Linked DNA regions of Homo sapiens: region 2 is linked to region 1. The links come from fine-mapping of genetic effects on gene expression. A gene starts in region 1. The other region holds a variant in brackets. All regions are shown on one strand. Distances are between the middles of the regions.

The links. PIP is the estimated chance that this variant, and not a neighbour inherited with it, causes the effect.
Region 2: its variant is the best candidate, but not a certain one, in a credible set for the expression of RPGR in tibial nerve (GTEx, PIP 0.82).

Annotation. Positions count from the first base shown.
Region 1 is chrX:38,326,148-38,329,046 of GRCh38, forward strand. RPGR (retinitis pigmentosa GTPase regulator) reads right to left here and starts at 1,362. Exons shown (of 15, transcript NM_001034853.2): 1 at 1,193-1,362. The coding sequence starts at 1,220. It also overlaps a transcript of OTC not described here. RefSeq lists a silencer at 1,051-1,300.
Region 2 is chrX:38,862,360-38,865,276 of GRCh38, forward strand. No RefSeq gene overlaps it. Among named protein-coding and RNA genes, the nearest start is that of MID1IP1-AS1, 60 kb to the left of the region's middle. The variant G/A (reference allele first, on the strand shown) is at 1,400.

The DNA.
Region 1 (2,899 bases):
TCCCCTGGCTTCCCTGATACCCTCATCCCAAGCCAAGGTTTGGTGGCTCTGCTCTGGCCCTGTAATATCTACTGTCAATTTATATGGTCATTTTGTTTACTTTCCTGTATGTCTCACTAAATTGTGAACTGCAGGCCAGGAATGTCAGTTCCGGCCAGGAGCATGGAAGAAAACATACATATTTCAGTGAAGGTATGATTCTGCTCAAACCCAGTGTTTTTTCAAAATGGTCGTGACCTATTAGTGGGCCAGAAAATCAATTCAGTGGATCACGATCAGCATTTTAAAAGAATGCATTATCAAAAAGGTGTGTGTGGAATCTAAGTGGATAGAACAAGGACTGCTTCACCAGACATCTATTTCTGTTACACGGTATATATGGAGTATCGGGTCACAATGTCAAAAGTATTTCTAACTATGGAGCTCAGGAAAAAAAAGGCTAAAAAACACTCGCTAAAGGGTCCCTCTTCTCCCTCTTTGTCCAATTTATTTCCTGTATCCCCTTTTACCCCACAGCCCTGATCACTCACTCTTTACTGCATTCAATACATAACCGGGAGCTCAGGACCTCCAAAGTGCACAAGTCTGGAGTCCGCACTTTGGGGAGTTTACAGAAAGTGTCCCTCCCTGGCCGGGCGCGGTGGCTCACGACTGTAATCCCAGCAATTTGGGAGGCCGAGGTGGGCTGATCACCTGAGGTCGGGAGTTCGAGATCAGCCTGACCAACATGGAGGAACCCCGTCTCTACTAAAAATATAAAATTAGCCGGGCGTGGTGGCGCATGCCTGTAATCGCAGCTACTCGGAGGCTAAGGCAGGAGAATCGCCTGAACCCGGGATGCGGAGGTTGCGGTGAGCCGAGATTGCGCCATTGCACTCCAGCCTGGGCAACAAGAGTGAAACTCCGTCTCATAAAAAAAAAAAAAAAGTGTCCCTGCCTTCAAGAAGCTCATCAAGAGCTTATTTAAAAAGCATACGAAAGACAGGCACCCTCTTTCCCGTTCTCCCCCATCCTGTTCTTCCCGTCCGGTCCTCTGCCCTCAGTCATTCGCGGGAGCGCAACCAGCGATCCCGCCCCAGTCCGGCTGCCAAGCCTGGGGCCTGTCCCCCTACAGGGCCGATCCGGAGGCGGGGCCCGGCCGCCCGCGGACCCTCCCTCCCGGCCTTCCGCCACCGGCGCGGGCGCAACTCACCGGGCATCAGCTCTTCCGGCTCCCTCATGCCACGGGCAGTACGGGCAGCCTGCGCCGGGGCCAGGAGGCTGTAGAGGACGGTTTGGTCGGGGCTAAAGCAGCTACTCCGCACCGACGCGGGCCGCGAAAGCCCCCAAGTTCCGCATGGCGAAACTCCGGAGATCAACTACAACCGCGCTCCCGGAAGTCAACAAACAGCCGCTACGGGCAACGGGGGCGGAGCTTGGGAATGCAAGGCGGGACAGGCGCCGTTGGGGAGGGGAACGGAGGCCGGGTGGCTGGTAAGGGGCAGGCTCAGGCACAGCGGAGGGGCAGTAGAGACCACGCGCCCTCTGGCGGCCTGGAGCAGAGAGGCGGCCACGCCGCGCAGTGATGCTGTGGAGTCCGCGCCCTTGTGCCGTTGGAGGTCCAGGCGCCGCAGGGACCCTGCCCATGAGTGGCAAACGTCACAAATCCCATACTCCGTGACATAAGCAAGCATCGACACACAATTATGACACTACTAGTAATAGTGACCAGCTGGAACATTAAAGGAGGTAAGCACTCTGCTAAAGATATCCCCAGCATCTAAACCAACATCTGGCCTATACTGAATGCTCATTACGTATTTATTGGACAAATGAGTACTATTACAACCCTGTAAAGTGGTTAATGTTACCTCTGTTTAAGCATGTGGGCAGCTAGTCCAGCTAGTCCAGCCTGTAGTCAACAAAAGTAAAAGCTGAGGTGTATATGGTCCACTACTCACAGAACATACACAAAGGGGTAGCCCAACATCATTGCTCTAGAATTTGCTCAGCGATGTTATATGATGCAGGGTTTCCCATGCATCAACATTTGGCTATCATGAAATAAAGAAGCAAAAAGCCATCTTCCAGAATGAGCAGATTTACGTACGTTTGGTAGTTGTGGACATGGGCCCTAGAATCAGACACAATTGGATTCAGGGATCCCTGAATTACTCTTGTGTGTTACCAACACTTTCTCAGGAAGTTTGCATTAACATGAAGAGGGGACATTAAACTATTAGTTACACAAATAATCATTTACTTACAAAGCAAAGTGGAGGTTACTAAGGAAGTGGTTAACAAGAAGCGTTGACCTGGTGTAGGAGGTTAAGAAAGGCTTATCTGAAGAAAGAACATTAAATCTAAGAACTGGAGAAAGATAAGCCAGGAGGGGGAGAGAGCTCTTGGCAGAGAGTAAATTGTGTATAAAGGTTTGTAAGGAGCTTGACTCTTTCCAGGAACACCAAGAGGCGAGGCTGGTTCCTAGCGAGGTGGCAAGGTCTTGGGCCTATTAAGGATCTGAGATTTTATCCTAAAGACAATGTGAAACCACTGAGAAGTTTTAGGCAGTAGAACAACAGGACAGGATCAGTTATGTGTGTCCCTGAAATCATTCTGCCTGGTCTAGATGCTTTGTAGAGAATAAACTGGAGCAGTGAGAAGGGTTCAGAGGCTATTGCAGAATTTCAGACATGTGGTCAGGATGGCTTGGAGTACAGTTCATTGGTGCCAGAGAGGAGCAGGCAGATTTGAAAATATTTTAGGTCTTAGAATCAACAGGAAATGGTTTCTGACTATTGACTCCTAGACAGTGCTGGACTACCAAATAGTTCTTAGAGCAACAGCAAAGATAGGGCCCTAAATTATTTTGAAAAGGATTTGATATTCATTTTTAGAGTATCATAATTGTTACTACGGG
Region 2 (2,917 bases), 540 kb after region 1:
GTGAGTTCTCATGAGATCTGATGGTATAAATGGTAGTTTTCCCTGCACTCTCACACACTCACACTCTCTCCCGCTGCCTTGTGAAGAAGGTGCCTGTGTCCCTTTCTGCCATGATTGTTAAGTTTCCTGAGGCCTCCCTAGCCATGTAGAGCTGTGAGTCAATTAAACTTCCTTTGTTTATAAATTACCCAATCTCAGGTGTTATCTTTATAGCAGTGTGAGAACGGACTAATACAGAGACTAAGAAGGGAAATCAACAAAAATAGGAGGTGATCCAAGAAGGGATGGTGTCTGGAAGGCCAAGAGAAGAAAACATTTCCAGGAGGAGAAATGATGCTGATGGGTCAAGTTAGGGAGAAGCCTGAAAATTAGTCTTGGACTTAATTGTAGGGACCATTGGTGATACTAAAAGTGAAGTTTCAGTGGGACAGTGAGGATGAAAGCCTTGTTAGAGTGAATGCAAGAAAGAAAAAAGGAGGAAGTAGAGCAAGTAGAAATAACTTCTGAGTTTTGCTGTAGAGGGGAGCAGAGGAACAAGGCAGTAAGTGGAGGGAGATATGGGGTCAAAGAATATTTTTATTTCTGTTTTTGTTGTGTTTTAGATTCATAATATAAGAGTGAGTTTGTGTGCTGGTGGGCGTGTTTTAGCAGGATGGGCTAACTTCATGGCGCAGCAGCAGGCAGGAGGGAAGTCTCAGTAGGCTGGGAGGGGACAGGATCTGATTAACATACAGATTGCTTTGGCTTTAGAAAGGAGCATGGATAGTTTATCTACTATGTCAGAAGAGAAGATGAAGTATATGATCACAGAGGCAGAGAGGCTGGGATATATGGTGGAGGATATGGAAGTTCTCTTCTGAATACTTTTGTTAGTGAAATAGGCAAGATCATCAGCTAAAAGTGAAAATGAGAAAGGGAGTATCGAAGATTGGAGGAGAGAAGAAAAAGGGTGATAGAGTTGTTTTAGAGACTGAAAGGATAGACTGACTAGGGAAGTGTAGTGGGACTCTAGGCGGCATTACAGACCTACTTCAAGTTTGTGGTCATGAATTTAAAGTGAGACCAGTCATCATGGAGCTGCCTCAACTCCTTGCTTGCCGGTGCCAAGGAAGTGGAAAGGTGGATTTAAACAGCATAGGGATGTGAAGGTAGGAGAAAGAGGTGAGGGAATTGAGGTGGTTGAAGTGGTAGGAAAGGGAGTGGGTGTTATGATGGGATCAAAGCCAGGTAAGAAGGGAAGCAAAGCTACCAAAGGGGTTAAGGGGAGTGAAAAGCTGGTAGGATCAGTGGATAAGAACTCCCAATGAGATTCAAGAATCGTTGGAGTTGAGAGACGACAGAGTAATATGGAAAGCTAGAAAGTGGTAATTGGAAAGTGGGAAACTTGAAACTGAGATAT[G/A]TTGGGAATGCAGTCACTGGTAATGACAGGTCTAGAGTGTGACCTTGCTGAGTGGCTGAGGTAGGGCAGAGACACAATTGTTGGAGGAGAAAAGGTCAAAGATCTGAGAAGCTGGAGAGTTGAAAGGATCAACTCTGTTGGAGTTTTGGTCATGAATTTGACCACTAGAATTATGATAGCGCCAGTGGTGGAGGAAGTCATGAACCAGGTGCTTAAATATTTAAGAAACGAGGAGAAAGGGGTGACTGGAAGATGTATGACAGCAGCAAGGCATTTTGCGTACTCTACCTGTGATGTTCATTCTTTTGGTTTGTGGATTTTTTGTTCAACCCCTTCCCACCCTTTTCCCAACTAATTATGCTGTGAGCTCATAGAAGGAAGGGACTATGTTGTTATCTTTTTTTGGCAGGTAAGCTAGTGCTTAGACCAGAGGTGTTGGTTACTTGATTGGCAGAGGGAGCAGGACCTTCTTTCCTCAGTCCTTTTTCTAGAATTTCTAAAATACCAGACATCTGTCCAGATGCATTTCAGCCCTTGTAGCAACTGCCCTTGTAGCAACTACATTTCTAAAGATAGCACAGCCAAGTTAACTCCACATTACCAGTTATTTTTAGGGCACGGTCAGTGCCAAGTCTTGAAGTTGAGGAAATAATTTCTTCAAATCTACATAATTGTGGCCAAAGGTTAGGCCTTAGTAAAGCTGTGAAGCAGTCAATGTTGTTTCAAATGCTTTTTAATCTCACTGTATGCAAACTGTAGCACCCAGTTCCCCACTCCTTTATTTCCCCTAATCAGAGCTTTTCAAGAATGACCTGTTAATTCCTGGTCTTCGCCCTGACTAATTAAACCAGCATCATTGGGACAAGGCCCAGGAATCGGCATATTCAATGCTTGTCAGGCATTTCAGTGGGCCATTTGAGAAGCCCTGAACTAAAATAGTGAGTGGTAAGATTGGACCTCTCCCAAGTGTTTTCATATTTTAAAAGTGACCTCTTTAAGGGGACAACACTGTCAAGTCCAAAGGAGCCCATTTTGGCTGGGTGCAATGGCTCATGCCTGTAATCCCAGCACTTTGGGAGGCCGAGGCAGACAGATCACTTGAGGCCAGGAGTCTGAGACCAGCCTGGCCAATATGGTGAAACCCCATCTCTACTAAAAATACAAAAATAAGCCGGGTGTTAGTGGCGTGCACCTGTCATCTCAGCTACTCGGGTGGTTGAAGCACAAGAATCACTTGAACCTGGGAGGCAGATGTTGCAGTGAGCCAAGATCATGCTGCTGCACTCCAGCCTGGGAGACAGGACTCTGTCTCAAAAAAAAAAAAAAAAAAAAAAAAAGAGCCAATCTCTAATGGAACTTGGGGCGCCTGTCAGGATACTATTAAGCAGCAGAGGGCTGGTCTGCAGCTGTTAAATTTTATAAGTCAAGATTAAGGTAGAGAAAGAGATGCTACCAGGTGTACCATGCCTGGCCTTCATGAACTGTGATTATGATGCTCACTCAAGTTTGAGAACCACT